Regions from separate parts of the Homo sapiens genome. Here region 2 is linked to region 1. The links come from fine-mapping of genetic effects on gene expression. A gene starts in region 1. The other region holds a variant in brackets. All regions are shown on one strand. Distances are from middle to middle.

Region 1 (11,489 bases):
TGAGATTAATACATAGCTTTTGGTAGTATCTAGTTAAAACAACCAAATCCAACACTTCTTGTCTAAAAATTTACATTATAGATGATCCCTGTCACTGTTAAGACCGAAAAATCCTAAGAAATGTTTCCATTTCTAAAAATCAAACTCAAAGCCCCAAATCACATTAGTAAACCATTTACCTTCTGTAAGCCTTGCTTTTCCTCCTGTAGGCTGGCAGAGGACAGTGGAGCAGCCAACACACAAAACTACCGTTTGTGCATGGCTAAAGACCGTGGTGATTTTATAGCATCCTGAAAGAAAAGCAGATAACATTTTTTTCCTCTATTACACCCGTCTTTCCTGCACTTATGCCCAACTCATCATCCATTACATTGTTTCCCAACACAAAAAAACGTAGGGGTTGTATGTGAAATGTGATGAGAGATCACGGTGAAATGAATCACTCCTCCTAAGATGCAAAACTTTGCCAGTCTCATACATTCAAATTTTAAGAGTATCAGGGAAAATATTTTCCACAGGCGAAGAAACTGAAGCTGCTGCACAGCTTCAAGGATACGAGACAGCTAACACTACAACATTTTCCAACTGTTGAGGTCCAGTGCTTTCCCCACTACAGCAAGCCGTCTCCTCACCTGGGCATTTCACATCCATGAAGTAGGAATTGGGGCTCTGCACCAGGCGTTTCTTCTTGTGTTTCCTCTTCTCCTCTTCTGGAGAGGGATGAAGGAGATCCTTTGCGAGCTAAGAGGGACAGAAATGCAGAGATTTAGAAACCAACAGCGAAAATGGGATGGTCGAAAATAGCCCCCACTGTCACACACCGGGGAGAGCTCGCCCCTCGCCGCCCCTGGTGTCTGCGCAGCTGGGCCGCCATCTTATCTCCTCTCCGCTCCCGTCTATGCGGGTGGCCCGTGGGCCGCTGCGGTCCCTGGAGTTAATGTCCTAAGAAGTGCAGAGGGTAAATGAGGACCCTCTACGATCCGAAATCAGCGTGAGGGGAGAGTTCGGACAGAACAGCGAGATCTCCGCCGAAACCTGGACCAAAGCACTCACAGGCATGTTCTCGTGTGCGTAGGTCGTCACCGCCGGAAAGGAGCGAAAGCGGAAATCCTGCCCCTTATATAGAGCACACTACAGGAAATGACGCAAGGATCTTGTGCCACCATGTTTGGAACGTCTTACTTTGATCCGCCGCAGTGGGGAGACAAGGGAGCTGCCATTTTCGGAAGGTCTTTAACTGTTAGTTGTGACACATATGCGTCACCATGTTGAGAGGGTTACCTTGCTAATTTGAGGTCAGCGTTTGATCACTATCCAGGGATAAATGGACACTTTTAAAATTTTGTGCCATACCTTGACAGTTGGAGCCTAATAAATAGGAAAGGTTGAGGAAAACACCAGGGAGAAGGAGCCATATCCAGGACTTCCGTCCTATTTTTTAAATACCTATATTCTTAACTCTTTTTCTATTGGTTTAATTTAACAGTTTAGGCCGGGCGCAGTGGCTCATGCCTGTAATCCCAGCACTTAGGGAGGCCAAGGCGGGTGGATCACCTGAGGTCAGCAGTTCAAGACCAGCCTGGCCAACATAGTGAAACCCCGTCTCTACTAAAAATACGAAAATTAGCCAGGCGTGGTGGCGTGTGCCTGTAATCCCAGCTACTCTGGAGGCTGAGGCAGGAGAATCGCATGAACCTGGGAGGCGGAAGTACAGTGAGCCGAGATCCACTCCAGCCTGGGTGACAGAACAAGACTCTGTCTTAAATAAATAAATAAACAGGGGAGACATGGTTTGGTCAGTGAAAAGAAATAGGGAAGACTCAAGGAGATAATGAGAGGTGAGAGAATGGACAAAAAGAGATTGAATAGTTTAGCTTGAGAAGGGACAAGCATGGACACGGAAGGTGATGGGGATAAGTGAAAGATGCCTTCTTTTTTTTTATTTTTATTTTTATTTTTTTTTTAGACACAGTTTTGCTCTTGTTGCCCAGGCTGTAGTGTGATGGCGCCATCTCGGCTCACCACAACCTCCGCCTCCCGCGTTCAAGCGATTCTCCTGCCTCAGCCTCCCGAGTAGCTGGGATTACAGGCATGCGGCACCATGCCCGGCTAATTTTGTATTTTTAGTAGAGACGGGGTTTCACCATGTTGGCCAAGCTGGTATTGAACTCCCGACCTCACGTGATCCACCTGCCTCGGTCTCCCAAAGTGCTGAGAATACAGGCGTGAGACACCGCGTCCGGCCTTTAATTTTTTATAGGCAGCCAGAATAGGCTCGAGAGAGACTCCCTTGAATAATTTTTTCTTGCCCGGGCGCCGTGGCTCACGCCTGTAATCCCAGCACTTTGGGAGGCCGAGGCGGGTGGATCACGAGGTTAGGAGATCGAGACCATCCTGGCTAGCACGGTGAAACCCCGCCTCTACTAAAAATACAAAAAATTAGCCGGGCGCGGTGGCGGGCGCCTGTAGTCCCAGCTACTCGGGAGGCTGAGACAGGAGAATGGCGTGAACCCGGGAGGCGGAGCTTGCAGTGAGCGGAGATCGCGCCGCTGCACTGCAGCCTGGGCGACAGAGCGAGACTCCGTCTCAAATAATAATAATAATAATAATAATAATTTTTTCTTTGCCGGTCGCGGTGGCTCAGGCCTGTAATCCCAGCACTTTGGGAGGCTGAGGCGGGCGGATCACGTGACGTCGGGAGTTCGAGACCAGCGTGGCCAACATGGTGAAACCCCGTCTCGACTAAAAAAAAAAAAAAAAAAAAAAAATTTAGCTGGGCGTCGTGGCAGGCGCCTGTAATCCCAGCTACTCGGGAAGCTGAGGCTGGAGAATCGCTTGAACCCAAGAGGCGGAGGTTGCAGTGACCAGAGATTGAGCCATTGCACTTCTGCCTGGGTGACGAGCAAAACTTTGTCTCAAAAAATAAAATAAAAGTAAAAACAAAGGTTGGGCGCAGTGGCTCACGCCTGTAATCCCAGGCCTTTGGGAGGCAGAGGTGGGTGGATCACCTGAGGTCGGGAGTTCGAGAGCAGCCTGACCAACATGGAGAAAGCTCGTCTCTACTAAAAATACAAAATTAGCAGGGGGTAGTGCGGGTGTCTGTAATTTCAGCTACTCGCGAGGCTGAGGCAGGAGAATCGCTTGAACCAGGGAGGCGGAAGCTGCGGTTAGCCCAGATCACACCATTGCACCCCAGCCTACGCAACAAGAGCGAAACTCCACCTCAAAATAAACAATAAAAATTAAAAAAATAAAAATAAAAATAGGCCGGGCGCGGTGGCTTACGCCTGTAAACCCAGCACTTTGGGAGGCCAAGGCGGGCAGATCACGAGGTCAGGAGATCAAAACCATCCTGGCTAACACGGTGAAACCCCGTCTCTCCCTAAAATACAAAAAATTAGCCGGGTGGTGGCGGGCGCCTGTAGTCCCAGCTACTCAGGAGGCTGAGGCGGGAGAATGGCGTGAACCCAGGAGGCGGAGCTTGCAGTGAACCGAGATCGCGCCACTGCACCCCAGCCTAGGTCGACAGAGCAAGACTCCGTCTCAAAAAAAAAAAAAAAATAGGGCCAGGCGTGGTGGCTCACGACTGTAATCCCAGCACTTTGGGAGGCCGAGGCGGGCGGATCAGAAGGTCAAGAGATCGAGACCATCTGGCCAACATGGTGAAACCCCATCTCTACTAAAAATACAAAAATTAGCTGGGCGTGGTGTCGGGCACCTGTAATCCCAGAGGATTACAGGTACTCCAGAGGCTGAGGCACAAGAATCGCTTGAATTCGGGAGGCGGAGGTTGCAGTGAGCCGAGATTGCGCCACTGCACTCCAGCCTGGCGACAGAGCAAGACTCTGTCTCAAAAAAATTAATTAATTAATTAAAAAATAAATAAAAAATTTTTTTGAAACAGGATCTTACTCTATCACCGAGGCTGGAGAGCAGTGGCATCATAATCGTGGCTCACTACAGCCTTGGACTCTTGGGCTCAAGTGTTCTGCCCACTTCTGTCCCCCAAGTAGCTGCGGCTGGGACTACAGGCCACACCACCATGTATGGCTAATTTTTTTTTTTTTTTTTTTTTTTTTTTGTCGAAGCAGTCTCACTATGTTGCCCAAGCTGGTCTTGAACTCCTGGGCTTAAGGGATCCTCTCACGTTGGCCTCCCAAAGTGCTGGGATTACAAGTGTGAGCCACCGCAACAGGTCTTAGATAATATTTTCTTTCTTTCGTGTTTCGTATTTTTTTCCACCCCCAGCACACATATAGCAAGAATAATTTTTTTCTAAAGGCAGAGATAAACTTGTTTCTCTTTTACTCTCTTTCTTTCTTTCTTTTTTTTTTTTTTTTGAGACGGAGTCTGGCTCTGTCGCCCAAGCTGGAGTGCAGTGGCGCAATCTCGGCTCACTGCAAGCTCTGCCTCCCGGGTTCACGCCATTCTCCTGCCTCAGCCTCCCAAGTGGCTAGGACTACAGTCGCCTGCCACCACGCCCGGCTAATTTTGTGTGTGTGTGTGTATTTTTAGTAGAGATGGGGTTTCACCATGTTAGCCAGGATGGTCTCGATCTCCTGACCTCGTGATCCGCCCGCCTCGGCCTCCCAAAGTGCTGGGATTACAGGCGTGAGCCACCGCGCCCGGCAAACTTGTTTCTTTATACCCGTGCTGTTCATATTTCAGCTTCCTGGTTACCAAGGCTACACATTCATGGCCTATTGAGTGAGATTTCAGGAGTACTGCACCTTAAGTGGGCCATATTAAAAGATTCACGTAAAGAATGACATTTTTAGTTCAAATCTCTGTTTTCCTAAGCTATTTGGTCAGAGAAATCACACATGGGTCCCCATAAGAGAGATCGTTCCAACTGAAGCCCCAGGATGTGTCTAGGTAGGCTGTGTGTGTTGGGGTGGTGGGGCCGATTCTGTATAACTAATTTACGTTTTCACCCTGTTCCACCAGGGGGCAGACTGACTCAACAAATAACCTACTTCTGCGCATCCCGCTTTTTTCAAAGTGAATTGGGACCCATAGAACTAAGGGCTTGGACAACTAACAGTAAAATTCTAGGACTGCCTTTTACTCAGCCCCAGAAACCGATGATAACTCATCTTCTAGCTTCGTTGAATAGCATCTCCAAAACTCAGCCCCATTTTTTTTTTTCAATTTCTAGTGCTCTCCCTACCTTCACCCTTATTCCCAAAACTCTTGGTTCTCTTCCCCTAATCCCTCTAAAATTTCTCTTCTAAAATTTCTGGTCGTCGTGGTTAAACCTCTACTTCCCTTCACCCCAGCCTCTCTGGCCTCAGAATGGAAGAGTAAGGTCCTAAGAGGGGAGCTACAATTACCGAAAGGCTGTGGAAAATAGCGAGAGAGACAGGCCGGCCTAAGCTAGGAAGGGAAAACCGAGAGAACAGAGGCCGGGCTGGCAGCCTTGGCCTGCTCAAAAGGGTGGGCGGGCAGGGGGTGGAGCCCGGAGGGGTGCCGCCTCTCCTCTTTCCCGGAGCCTGGGCGGAGAGGGAGGAAAACTTCTTCCTGGCCTGGGCTCCGTGCCGCTCTGTTTGCCAACCGTCCAGTCCCGCCTACCAGTGCCGGGCGCTCCCCACCCCTCCCCCGGCTCCCCCGGTGTCCGCCATGGCCAAAGCCTACGACCACCTCTTCAAGTTGCTGCTGATCGGGGACTCGGGGGTGGGCAAGACTTGTCTGATCATTCGCTTTGCAGAGGACAACTTCAACAACACTTACATCTCCACCATCGGTGAGCCCGCTGGCCATGTCCCAGACCCCGACTCTCCTGTGACCTCCTTCTCCGGCTCCCGGATTACTAGTGACCCCACTTTTCAGTCCCCTTAGAGTAAGGCTCCTAAATTCTAGTCCCTCAACCCCTGGCTCTGACCCTTCCCCCGTGCATGTCTCTGTATAGTAACCAAACCTCTCACCTCTCTGAGGCCTTCAGGTAACTCTTCAACTGCTGCCAGCTCCTCATTTTCTTGGTACCATCGCCTTAGTCTCCCCAAATCCACAAGAACTCTTCTCTATTTTTCTCTGTTCCCCTCTTCCCCTACCCCCACCACCTAGAACTCTCTCGATCCTATCTCCATGTTTCCTGTATCCCTGTCCGCCACATCTTTTTCTCCCGATCCGATGCTAGCCTCTTTCTGTCTTGCTGAGCTTCAAACTCTCCCACTGTGTCCCCACCTCACCATCTACTTCCCAGGTTCCCTGCCCCAGTCTCCCTGCACCTCAGCTGAACAAGGGTTTGGGAAGGGTGGAACAAGGTGGCTGGGTGTGCTGGAGGGTGGCCCAAGGACTGTGATCATGAATATGCAGCCAGCTTGGTGAGGAACGTGGAAATGAGGGGACTTTTGGGGTCTCTGAGTCAGCCTGGTGACTCATCCTCCTCCCAGGGGCCCCCAGCAGGCTTGGGGGAGGTGCCCAAGTTTCTACTAAGAAGAACATTGTCTCCCCTCCTCCCTTCTCTTCTTTCTTCATCTCCTCTGGCTTGGGAAATAGACAGGAAGAGTCTCACGACAATTCTGGTTACAAAGGAAAAGGAAAAATGCCCCTCTTTCCTAATTGTCTCAAAAGTAATCCTGTTTAGCCTCAGACTTTCCTAGTGCCAAGTTTGGCCCACTAGTTAATTCACATAGACTGGCTTCAGCTACTTTTTTCCTTACTCTCTACTAGGAGGGTAGGTGGGATACCAAGAGTAGAGGGCTCTAAGAAAACAGAGAAGAGGAATGTGAAAGTAATATCTGGGGGGAGACAGAGACTGAATTCAGAGAGTTGTCAGCTGGTATAACTGAATGGACCCAAGAGGCAGCCTAAGGATTTTAAGCCTCCATGCAGAATTTTCGTCACCTTTTCCCTCCCAAAATCCATAAAATGTACGTAAAAATAGTATTCTTGCTATACAAATACAGCTTTGGGAAAATTCTCCTAGCTTGGCATTTCCAACAAGATTGTTCCCCAAGTGCCTCCCCTGCAGAATTTCTGGTGCCAGCACTGCTCCGTTCCTGTCCCTTCCATCACACAGTTTTACATGTGTGCATGCATGTCTCAACTTCAGTGCATACCTTCCACCCCTAGGAATTGATTTCAAGATCCGCACTGTGGATATAGAGGGGAAGAAGATCAAACTACAAGTCTGGTAAGTCAGTCCTCTGGGATGCCTCGCCAGACTTCCCCATTTACCTCCTACACGTTTTTCCTTCTATTTTGTTTCATTTCTCTTCCTTTCCCCATTGCTCCTTCTAGAAGTGCTAGAAGGAGCACTTCTGGCATTTCTCCGGATGCACTCAGCTGTCCTTCCATCTCTCTTCCTGCTCTCCCAACTAGTTCCAACTCTTTTGTAACTCTTGCCTCCTCTGGCTGCAGAGCATCCTCTTAATTTGACAACAAACAACTGTTCAGTCATAACATGGAAACAGGCTGTGAGCAGTTAAATGGCAAAGGCAGAATTAAGACTTGACTCTAAGTCTAGTGTTTTCTCCAAAATATGGTGAGCCCAGAGAGCCAAATATAGACCCTGAAGGTGTTTAAGTGGTATGAAGCTTAGTGGAGGCATTATGCTATGACATATAAGAGCAGACTGGTGCGCAAATCTGGTTCTTTTAGTTATCTCCTGCCTGACCTTCATTAATTATTCAGCCTATCCAAATCTGTTTCCTCTTTTTTTTTTTTTTTTTTTTTTGAGACAGAGTTTTGCTCTTGTCACCCAGGCTGGAGTGCAATGGCACAATCTAGGCTCACTTTAACCTCCGCCTCCTGGGTTCAAGTGATTCTCCGACCTCAGCCTCCCAAGTAGCTGGGATTACAGGCGCCCGCCACTAGGCCGGGCTAATTTTTGTATTTTTAGTAGAGACGAGGTTTCACCATGTTGGCCAGGCTGGTCTTGAACTCCTGACCTCAGGTGATCCACCCGCCTCAGCCTCCCAAAGTGTTGGGATTATAGACGCAAGCCACGGCACCTGGCGTGTTTCCTCATTTTTAAAATAGAGACAATAATACATGTCTTACAAGGAAAGAGTAAGGATTAGATAAAATGATACATACACAGTGCTTGACACATAGCAAACATTCAATGAATAAGCAAAGACATCTTGTTTCTTGGGCCACTACCATCTCTGGAAATCAGCTCAACTGTCTTTAATCCCGTTCCCCTTTACTGTTTCCTTATTCTGTTGCCCCACCATGTTACAAAAGCTAAATTCTTGTGAGAGAGGAAGAATTATTCCGTTGGAGAATTCTTCCCTCTATTCCATCCCATGAAAACTTCTCCTTCTTTAGGGACACGGCTGGCCAAGAGCGGTTCAAGACAATAACTACTGCCTACTACCGTGGAGCCATGGTATGAAGTGTGGGTCTGAACAAAGGATGAAGGATGAGGCTACAGAATATATTATGAATACAAAGGGTCAGGGGTTGGGGCAGGTAAAAATGGGAGGGGTGCAGTGTGGGTTGCAGAGGGCCCAACATGGCCTAGTGTTTAGACCCATGGATGCGGGGTCACTTACAGGGCAGTGGGAAGCCTCAATGGGAACATGGTCCAAGGTGAATTTTGTCATCTCCCAGGGCATTATCCTAGTATACGACATCACGGATGAGAAATCTTTCGAGAATATTCAGAACTGGATGAAAAGCATCAAGGAGGTGAGGACCCTCCAAAAGAGATGGGGAAACTGGTTAGAACCTGGAGAATGAAGGGGTCCATCAGGATAGGCAAGACCTAACTTTTTTTTTTTTGAGATGAAGTTTTGCTCTTGTTGCCCGGGCTGGAGTGCAATGGCAGGATCTCGGCTCACTGCAACCTCTGCCTCCCAGGTTCAAACGATTTTCCTGCCTCAGCCTCCCAAGTAGCTGGGATTACAGGCATGCACCACCATGCTCGGCTAATTTTGCATTTTTAGTAGAGACGGGTTTTCTCCATGTTGGTCAGGCTGATCTTGAACTCCTGCATCAGGTGATCCACCCGCCTTGGCCTCCCAAAGTGCTGGGATTACAGGCGTGAGCCACCGCTCCCAGCCGGCAGGACCTAACTTTTACTTGTCTTTTGCCCCCAGAATGCCTCGGCTGGGGTGGAGCGCCTCTTGCTGGGGAACAAATGTGACATGGAGGCCAAGAGGAAGGTGCAGAAGGAGCAGGCCGATAAGGTGAGGGCCAGGCTGAGCAATGTTCTAGAACTGGGCTGGGAGGGCCAAGATAGGTTGCATTGCAGAGGACTTGGCTGCTGTCCTTAATTCAATTCTCTTCCCACTTCACCCCTTATAGTTGGCTCGAGAGCATGGAATCCGATTTTTCGAAACTAGTGCTAAATCCAGTATGAATGTGGATGAGGTGAGATCCACACCCCCATCCCCGACCAAGAGAGGAAGTATTAGAAGGTAGATTCTCCTCCCTCCAAACTGACTCTGTTCCCCACTTTAGGCTTTTAGTTCCCTGGCCCGGGACATCTTGCTCAAGTCAGGAGGCCGGAGATCAGTAAGTTGGTTTTGCTGGACTAGGTACAACTCTGGGGTGTGTGTGTGTGTATGTATGTGTGTGTGTGTGTGTGTGTGTGTGTGTGTGTTGGTGTTGATAAAAACGGGGAGCAATGCTAAGATTTCTCATGAGGGTGGATTTACTTTAAACAGTTTATACCCTCCTACCCTAACCATCCATTCACACCATGACACCTGTGCCCTTCTCCCTCTAGGGAAACGGCAACAAGCCTCCCAGTACTGACCTGAAAACTTGTGACAAGAAGAACACCAACAAGTGCTCCCTGGGCTGAGGACCCTTTCTTGCCTCCCCACCCCGGAAGCTGAACCTGAGGGAGACAACGGCAGAGGGAGTGAGCAGGGGAGAAATAGCAGAGGGGCTTGGAGGGTCACATAGGTAGATGGTAAAGAGAATGAGGAGAAAAAGGAGAAAAGGGAAAAGCAGAAAGGAAAAAAAGGAAGAGAGAGGAAGGGAGAAGGGAGAGGAATGAATTGAGGAAGTGAAAGAAGGCAAGGAGGTAGGAAGAGAGGGAGGAGGAAAGGAAGGAGAGATGCCTCAGGCTTCAGACCTTACCTGGGTTTTCAGGGCAAACATAAATGTAAATACACTGATTTATTCTGTTACTAGATCAGGTTTTAGGGTCCTGCAAAAGGCTAGCTCGGCACTACACTAGGGAATTTGCTCCTGTTCTGTCACTTGTCATGGTCTTTCTTGGTATTAAAGGCCACCATTTGCACAAATGTTCCTGTTTTGGGTAACTTGGATTATTGTCAGAATTGTTCTCCACTCAAATCCAATTATTGTGTCTTCAAAGTGATTGATTTACCCAAATCAGGCTCGGTTTCTGTGGAACCAGGACTAATCCTACTGCTGTCTCTTCCCTAGCTGTTCTGTTGGTAAGGAAAATAGCAAAGAGCAGGAGGTAGAGTGATCTGAAGGTCTGGATATCCTCTTTCCGCCATGGGGTCCGGATGCCCTTGTGGGCAGAGCCTTGTCCTGAGCACAGGAAATTCCCAGCGAGAAGAACTCTAACAGTCCTAGCCTCAGGGAAATAACTGCACCTAGTGATTTATCCAGTGATTTGTGCAAGCTTCTTTGATTCTGCCAGCAATCCATTTAGTTATTTGATAGGCATTAATATCTGCTTTTATTAGTGAGGAAAATGAGAAGTTCATTTATTCATATATGTATATTGAGCATCTACTAAGTGCCAGGCACAATGGTCAGTTATTTTATTTATTTATTCATTTATTTTTAGGGACAGAGTCTTGCTCTGTCTCCGAGGCTGGAGTGCAATAGTGCGATCTCAGCTCACTGCAACCTCTGCCTCCTGCCTCAGCCTCTCAAGTAGCTGGGATTACAGGCGTGAGCCACCATGCCTGGCCAATAGTCAGTTAATATAGCCCTTTGGTGGTACTTACAAGCAGAGGGACAAGGACTTTTTTTCTTTTTTAAGACCGAGTGTGGCTCTGTCGCCCAGACTGGAGTGCAGTGGCACGATCCCAGCTCACTGCAACCTCTGCCTCCCGGGTTCAAGCGATTCTCCTGCCTCAGCCTCCCGAGTAGCTGGGATTACAGGCACGTGCCACCACACCTGGCTAACTTTTGTGTTTTTAGTGGAGACAGGGTTTTGTCATGTTGGCCAGGCTGGTCTTGAACGCCTGGGCTCGAGTGATCAGTCTGCCTCAGTCTCCCAAAGTGCTGGGGTTACAGGCGTGAGCCACTGCGCCCAGCCTGGGACAAGCAAACTTTAACAAAAACAGCTCTTTGGCTGGGCGTGGTGGATCACAACAGGAGTTCAAGACCAGCCTGGCCAGCATAGTGAAACCCCGTCTCTACTAAAAATACAAAAAAAAAAAAAAATTAGACAGGAGTGGTGGAGGGCGCCTGTAGTCCCAGCTACTTGGGAGGCTGAGGCAGGAGACTCACTTGAACCTGGGAGGCAGAGGTTGCAGTGAGTTGAGATCACACCACTGCACTCCAGCCTGGGTGACACAGCCAGACTCTGTCTCAAAAAAACAAAA
Region 2 (8,000 bases), 110 kb after region 1:
CTTTATGTTGTAAAATGATAGCAGTGTCTAGATCTGGATACCTCTGATGGTCTCCTATTAAGAGGACCTTATTGTGACTGAGATAGTACGGTATCAACCACTTGAAGCTCATGTTGTGTTGTAGATAAAGGGTTTTCCTTTGTAGTTTGTAAATTGTTGAATTTCTTATGCCAGTGGCCAGTACTACTTAGTTTTGATTTAGCTCGGTGTTAGTTTTCTGAAAATTGAAGTTAATATTATATGGCTCAGGAAAACTTTTATTTAGAAATAATATTTTTGCGTAGGGTGAAGATTATTTTTCTCCATGTTTGCTAGAAACTTTAATATTTGAGAACAAGGGCTTTGTGAGAGACTCTGATGGAGGCAGTAATTATGATGTGAATTTCAGAGGTCCAAATGAGGCAAGCATTTGGAATGACATATTCATGGGAGATATCAGTTGAAAAGTAAGAAAATCCCTCCCCCCTTGTTATTCCTTGTTACAATTTATAACTAGTTGATCAGATAGAGAAAGATCCTAGAGCAAAGGTCCTCAGCCAATAGATCTCCAAGAAAACAATTACCATTGCCCTTCTTCCTCTTTGGTTTACTTAGATTTCTTCCCCACTATTTTCTGACCCCATATCAGCACTTTGGGGAAGTGAAAAGTCCTTATAAAATGATTGGAACAAGTTGCTCTAAAACAGGAAAGGGAAAGTTAATCAGAGACCAGGCTTAGGTATGTCTAGCATCTGGATTTGTCTATAGAATGACATAGGGATGTGTGTGTGGTAAGTGGGATGTGGTAGGTGAGGAGGTGCTAGAATGCAAAGAGTAAAGTGTTCTAGCTATGACACAGGAAAGTGGAATAATATTGCAATCATACTATGGCTGGGCTTAAAGCATTAAAAAATTTTTAAATTGCAGTAAAATATACATAACAAAGGCCTAAGCTGTTTTTAAAGAATGCATGGGTACTGTCTTGACTACTTTGCTGTGAAACCTTGCTATGCTTTGTGTTAGGTGCGGATTCAGCTGCCCTGAACGGTGTCAATGGATCGGGTTAAATCAGATGTCCTATCTGTGGGACAGCTTCAGGAAAAAAGAAAAATTAGTGAATACACCTGCTGTCTTATTAGTACCTGTTCCCTAGCACTAGCAATAGGGATAAAGAAAAGAAGTTTGGTGGGCAGTATGTCTTCATTTTGTTATAATTTGGGGTGTGCTTTGGTATTGATGCTGTGATTTCCTATCTTGGATGTTGGCTTTGGAAACTAAACAGTTAAAGCATCATGATTTGAGAGGAAACTAGCTCTCATTCATGAAGACAAAGTTTGGCACTAGGCTGCAATGATGGGGGGATAGTTAGGGTGGGGAGACTAACAGACTTTTTTGTACCACAAATGACTTTTAAAAATTAAGAGATAATTCCATGTCCTGAGGTTATAAACCGGCTACAACTGGTTTTTCTCTCCCTCCCTCCTGTCCCCGCTAGGCATCATGGGTAAAAGTAAGCATCCCCCTGTTTCTTTTGTTTAATATAACAGTACACCATGTGATTGGCAGGGCAGTGCCCGCTTGGAGACCGGGTTTGTGCAGGGCTCTCAAGGGGGCTGGCACGCATGGGGGCCACCTCTGTGCTACAGAAAGAGCTTCTCTTACGGTAGAAAAGAGACGATAGAACAGAGAAAGAAAGGGGACCCTCCACACACACACGACCCTCCACACACACACACACACACGAAAAAAACCTAAACCCATCTCATTATTTTCCTCCTTTTTCTGTTCTCTTTCTCTATTTCTTATCTCTCTCACTTTTCTGGAAGCTAGAGGAAGGAACGGAAAAATGTATACCTCTAAGTAGTTTTAACTGTCTTGCCCTCCCCAATCCTTATTTTTCTTTGCTAAAAGCAGAAACTCGAAATCTCTTCTGAGTTCTTTCTAGTAGTTTTTGGCTATGTGTAGAAGGTAATATGCTGAGGTTTCTAATGGGATTGAAGTAATAAACACTGTTGCTTTAAAAAAATTTGTTGCAGAATTATTGTTTCTCATACAAAGCTCCTTTCGGTTTGGATCTTCTTTCCCTCTGCTTCATCCATTTGCTATAATGGTAAGGGTCTCTGGCTTCTAGTTGTCTTCAAGCTGAAGCAATAAGGAGAGTGTTTTATTAAGGTTTTCTCTTTCTCCTTCCTCCCCTTTTTAAAATTTCTTTTGTCTGTAGCAGTGATGGTTCTAGCCTCCCCCTTACCCTCTCTACCCCTCCCCTTTTCCATGTCAGCTCCAACCCTGCTCTGTGAATGGAGTCAACCAGCTGACTGAGTGTTGGCATCATGCCAGGGGCTGCAAAGCAATGAGAATGTGCGCGCGCTCGTGTGTGTAAGTGTATACAGAACACAAAGGGAAAGGCCTGCAGTCTAGGAAATCACAGGCCATTATATAAGGAAGTCTGCGTCATCTCTGCTTGCTTGGGCTGATGGACAAGGAGAGGGAGGGGGGAGGCTTAGAGCAAGAAAAATACCCTTTTGACACATCCACACATACACTTTTTTCCTTGCTGTCTTAGAAAGAAAAAGGTATTTGTGTTGTGGCAAAACGAGAGAGCTTCTGTGTGCAAGTGTTATTGACCATGTTCCTAGTAGAAGTAGTAACTGTCCTGGATCTCCTTTTTTATTTTTTTATTTTTTTGAGACAGGGTCTCTGTCACCCAAGCTGGAGTGCAGTGATGTGATCACGGCTCACTGCAACCTTGACCTCCTGGGTTCAAGCTATCCTCCCAACTCAGCCTCTTGAGTAGCTGGGACTGCAGGCGTGTACCACCACACCTGGCTAATTTTTGTATTTTTTATTGAAATTTGGTCTTCCTGTGTTGTCCAGGCTGGTGGGTCTCTTCTTTCTGTTCCCATTCAAAGGTGTATGTGCTTGAGAAAAGAATGATTAAAAGAGAAATGCCTCCTGGATTTTACAGCTGTAGTTTGTTAAGATACTTAGGGGTGAGGAGCAAGGAGGCAGGGGACAGGCCACATTGTGTGGCTTTTTTGTTTTTTGTTTTTGTTTTTGTTTTTGACAGTCTCACTTGGTAGCCCAGGCTGGAGTGCAGTGGTGTGATCTTTGCTCATTGCAACCCCTGCCTCCCAGGTTCAAGTGATTTTTGTGCCTCTGCCTCCCGAGAAGCTGAGATTACAGGTGCCCACCACCACACCCGGCTAATTTTTGTAATTTTTTTTTAGTAGAGACAGGGTTTCACCATGTTGGTCAGGC[T/C]GGTCTCGATCTCCTGACCTCAAGTCATCCACCTGCCTCGGCCCCCACGGTGCTGGAATTACAGGCGTGAGCCACTGCGCTTGGCCGACTGTTTCTAATCATTCAGAATTGCCAAGGGTACAGGGGTGGGTGGGGGAGAGGGGTTGTTCTTAAGGAGAAGCAAAAAGCCAGATAATAGAGCAAGTAATATCTATTAACTACTCATTCGAGACTCCCCCTTCTTTTTTATTTCTTCTTTTCTGTTTAGTATGATATTATCAAAATGCGGTATTCTTTCCCTGCCATCTGCCAGAGTTAGAATTGTACAAAAGGACAGTCAAACAGCACATGGAAGGAAGGAAAAATTAGAGATTGTTCTAAGTGTCCATGCATTGCAAGTGTTACAATTTTGGGGTTCAGTTGTAGTGATTGTGTCTTTCATTGGCAATTAGGGGATCAGCATTCATTTAGAAATTATAATTCTGCTCAGTTTAGTATGATGTCTTTTTTTTTTTTTTTTTTTTTGTAGACAGTGTCTCGCTCTGTTGCCAGGCTGGAGTGCAGTGGCGCATTGTTGGCTCGCTGCAACCTCCGACTCCTGGGTTCAAGCGATTCTCCTGCCTCAGCCTCCTGAGTAGTTGGGACTACAGGCCTGCGCCACCATGCCCAGCTAATTTTTGTATTTTTAGTAGAGACGGGGTTTTTACCATGTTGGCCAGGATGGTCTCGATCTCTTGACCTCATAATCCGCCCGTCTTGACTTCCCATAGTTCTGGGATTACAGGCGTGAGCCACTGCACCCGGCCTGATGTCTTTTCTTAAATTCTCTTTATGTGCCTCCTAGGTGTGATATTTATGAAGCAGCTTTTGTGTTAGGTGAAAATGAGAAAGTATATTAAAGAATAAAGTATGGGGCCGAGAGCGGTGGCTCATGCCTGTAATCCCAGCACTTTGGGAGGCCGAGGTGGGTGGATCACATGAGGTCAGGAGTTTGAGATCAGCCTGGCCAACAAGGTGAAACCCTATCTCTACTAAAAATAAAAAAATTGGCCAGGTGTGGTGGCTCATGCCTGTAATCCCAGCACTTTGGGAGGCTGAGGCGGGCGGATCACGAGGTCAGGAGATAAGAGACGATCCTGGCTAAGACAGTGAAACCCTGTCTTTACTGAAAATACAAAAAATTAGCCGGGCGTGGTGGCTTGCGCCTGTAGTCCCAGCTACTCGGGAGGCTGAGGCAGGAGAATCGCTTGAACCCGGGAGGCGGAGGTTGCAGTGAGCCAAGATCGTACCACTGCACTTTCAGCCTGGGCGACAGAGCAAGACTGTCTCAAGAAAAAAAAAAATTAGCCAGGCATGGTGGTGGGCACCTGTAATCCCAACTACTCGGGAGCCTGAGGCAGAAGAATTTCTTGAACCTGGGAGGTGGAGGTTGCAGTGAGCCTAGATTGCACCACTGCACTCCAGCCTGGGCGACACAGCAATACTCTGTCTCAAAAAAAAAAAAAAAAAAAAAGGAATAAAGTATGGGTCACACTGTTACAGTTGGTTTTATGTGAGTTTATTTTTGCTTCTGACCATTCAGAATAACAGCACTGATGGGGAGAGTTGGGAATGAGAGGGAACTTTCAAACTCGTTAATCCTGTAGTAAGAGTTTTTATCAGGTTGCAGTCTAGAGGAAATTCCTTAATTTGATTGGGAACTTGTATATTTTTGTTAAAGCCTGTAAATTTCTCTTCTTGCCACATCTTTACAAGCAATAGTCTTTGAACGTCTGTATTTTTTGGTGTTAATATCTGTGCTTTTTTTCCTTTTGTTAGGAAGTGAATATGAGGTTATTACTTTCTTTAAGGATTGTAGGATGAGCTGGTCACAGTGGCTCACAGCCGTAATCCCAGCACCTTGGGAGACCATCGCAGAATTGCTTGAGCTCAGGAGTTTGAGACCAGCCTGGGCAACATAGGGAGATTCCATCTTTACAAAAAATTAGTCGTGGCATGTGCCTGTGGTCCTAGCTACTCGGGAGGCTGGGGTGGGAGGCTGCAGTGAGCCATGATTGCACCACTGCACTCTAGCCTGGAAAACAAAGTGAGACCCTGTCTCAAAAAAAAAAGAAAAAAAAAAAAAGATTGCAGGATGGGACCTACCACAATGGTTGTTCTGCTTATTCCCCAGGCTGCCTGCAATTATTTCCCCACCCCAAGGAGCTGGAGCCTACTTTTCTAAGTCCCTTTATAAGTAAACTAAGGAGTATTATTTCCTAGTCTGTTGAGTACTGAAAGACAAAATAGCAACAGACCAAACTTGCTACAACCTAGAGGCTAGGTAAAGATTCATTCATTGTTGTTGTGGGATTACCTAGTTCTTAGAAGTAATAATTACCCTTTTTTTTTTTTTTTTTTAAGTTTTTTTGAGATGGAGTCTCACTCTGTTGCCCAGGCTGGAGTGCAGTGGCATGATCTCAGCTCACTGCAGCCTCTGCCTCCTGGATTCAAGTGATCCTCCCACCTCAGCCTCCCAGGTAGCTGGGATTATAAGCATGTGCCACCACACCCGGCTAATTTTCGTATTTTTAGTAGAGACGAGGTTTCACCATGTTGGTCAGGCTGGTCTGGAACTCTTGAGCTCAAGCAGTTGCCCCACCTCAGCCTCCCAAAGTGCTGGGATTACAGGCATGAGCCACCATGTCCAGCTATATCCTTTATTTTTACCTTTTCTCTTGATGTTAGGAGCCAGATTAGTGAGGATAATCTTAGTGATTATGTAGTCATAATCAGCAAGGCATAAACCAGTACCTTCTCTTAAAGGATAGATGAGAAATTTTTTTTTTTTTCTTAACTCTCATAGGCCTTAATTGCTGTTTTGGAGTGGCTGAAGAGTAATTTTGAAGTGTATGTGAAATCTGCCCTTTGGCCACGTCTGTCCCTTTAATTCTATTTATTTATTAGAGACAGGGTCTCACTCTGTTGCCCAGGCTGGAGTGCAGTAGTGTGATCATAGCACACTGCAGCCTTGAACTCCTGGGCTCAAGTGATCCTTTTGCCCCAGCCTCCCAAGTAGCTAGGACTGACTATAGGCATGTCACCATGCCTGGCTAATTTCATTATTATTATTTTTGGTAGAGACAGAGGCTCACTGTTTTTCCCAGGCTGGTCTCAAACTCCTGGCCTTAAGCAGTCCTTCTGCCTTAGCCCCCCAAAGTGCTGGGATTATAGGCATGGGCCAATGCAAAGAACCTTTCACTCTAATACTGCCTGTTCTTCTTTTCTTTTTTGAGGCGGAGTCTCGCCTTTCACCCAGGCTGGAGTGAAGTGGCACGATCTTGGCTCACTGTAACCTCCACCCGCCGCCCTCCCCTCACCAGGTTCGAGTGATTCTCCTGCCTCAGCCTCCCGAGTAGCTGAAATTACAGGCGCCTGCCACCATGCCCAGCTAATTTTTGTATTTTTAGTAGAGACGGGGTTTCACCATGTTGGCCAGGCTGGTCTCAAACTCCTGTCCTCAGGTGATCTGCCCGCCTTGGCCTCCCAAAGTATTGGGATTATAGGCATGAGCCACCGCCCTGACCTCTCATATCACCTTTTCTAAATGATTGTCTGGCACATTTGCTTTCGTGTATGTCAGAACTTCTGTGCTGATTTGTAAGGTGACAGTAGGAGAAAGCTGTTTACCTCCTGTTCATTACCTCTAGGCAGCACACTCTAACTTGTCACATTTAAGCATAGCGACCTTTACAATCCTTGGTGCATATTACTGAGCAGTATGTTACCCACTGCAAGGTCATCTAGGCTCTTTCTTTCAAGAATGTGAGCCAAAGGTTTGTGTAGTAAACTCAGTGATACAGAAAAGACACTGTAAGAGCATGTAAACAGTAATAGTCTTTCATAAGAATTACTCTCTTACCAGTCTGGTTGGATCGGAAACCAAAAATGACAATATAGATAGCATAGTACGATGGTTAAGGACATTGACTCAGGTAAGACAGTCCTGTGTTTTAACCACGCCCAGCCATTTAAGGACTGTGAAATCTTTTTTTTTTTTTTTTTTTTTTTTTTTTTTTTTGAGACGAAGTCTCACTGTGTTGCCCAGGCTGGAGTGTAGTGGCGCGATCTCAGCTCACTGCAGTCTCCGCCTCCCGGGTTCAAGCGATTCTCCTGCCTCAGCCTACTGAGTAGCTGGGACTACAGGCATGCGCCACCACACCCAGCTAATTTTTGTATTTTTTAGTAGAGGCGGGGTTTCACCATATTGGCCACGCTGATCTGGAACTCCTGACCTCATGATCCGCCTGCTTTGGCCTCTCAAAGTGCTGGGATTACAGGCATGAGCCACTGTGCCTGGCCTGGACTGTGAAATCGTATGAAGTTACTCAGTTTATCTGTTTTTCTTTTCTCTCTAACAGGAGGATAATTATATCTCCAGAGGTTCTAAATGAGATAATGCATTGTGAAGCACTTTAGCGCAATGCCTAGCACATAGTAAGAGCTCAGTGAATGTTAGCAAGATAGATATTCCTGTCTGTTGGGTTTGTTTATACTATTTTCATTGTTCTTACTAGTTTATTTTAGCCAGCTTGTGGCTACCTTTTTTTTTTTTTTTTTTTTTTCCCTCCAAACTCGTGGTAGGTCTATTGACCTGTATCAAGATCAGGAGTCAGCAAACTATAGCTGCTGCTTGTTTTGGTAAATGAAATTTTGTTGAAACACAGCCACACCCACTTGCTTACAAAAGCAGAGTTTAGTACTTGCCCCACAAAGTCTAAAATGTTATTATCTGGTCCTTTACA

What was found.
Region 2: its variant is fine-mapped to the expression of RAB13 in whole blood (TOPMed, PIP above 0.99). The same link has a PIP of 0.9 or more in monocytes.

What each region holds. Positions count from the first base shown.
Region 1 is chr1:153,980,367-153,991,855 of GRCh38, reverse strand. RAB13 (RAB13, member RAS oncogene family) reads left to right here and starts at 5,517. Exons shown (of 8, transcript NM_002870.5): 1 at 5,517-5,743; 2 at 7,075-7,135; 3 at 8,275-8,335; 4 at 8,560-8,637; 5 at 9,048-9,137; 6 at 9,256-9,321; 7 at 9,412-9,465; 8 at 9,680-10,206. The coding sequence starts at 5,620. The coding sequence ends at 9,757. It overlaps RPS27 (ribosomal protein S27), which reads right to left and starts at 1,094. Exons shown (of 4, transcript NM_001030.6): 1 at 1,054-1,094; 2 at 633-741; 3 at 180-290. The coding sequence starts at 1,059. RefSeq lists enhancers at 176-1,156, 854-1,213, 170-1,369, 5,414-5,915, 6,229-6,458 and a silencer at 5,433-5,602.
Region 2 is chr1:153,875,504-153,883,503 of GRCh38, reverse strand. The region is part of intron 1 of GATAD2B (GATA zinc finger domain containing 2B); the gene reads left to right. Among named protein-coding and RNA genes, the nearest start is that of GATAD2B, 43 kb to the left of the region's middle. RefSeq lists a silencer at 2,177-2,471. The variant T/C (reference allele first, on the strand shown) is at 3,238.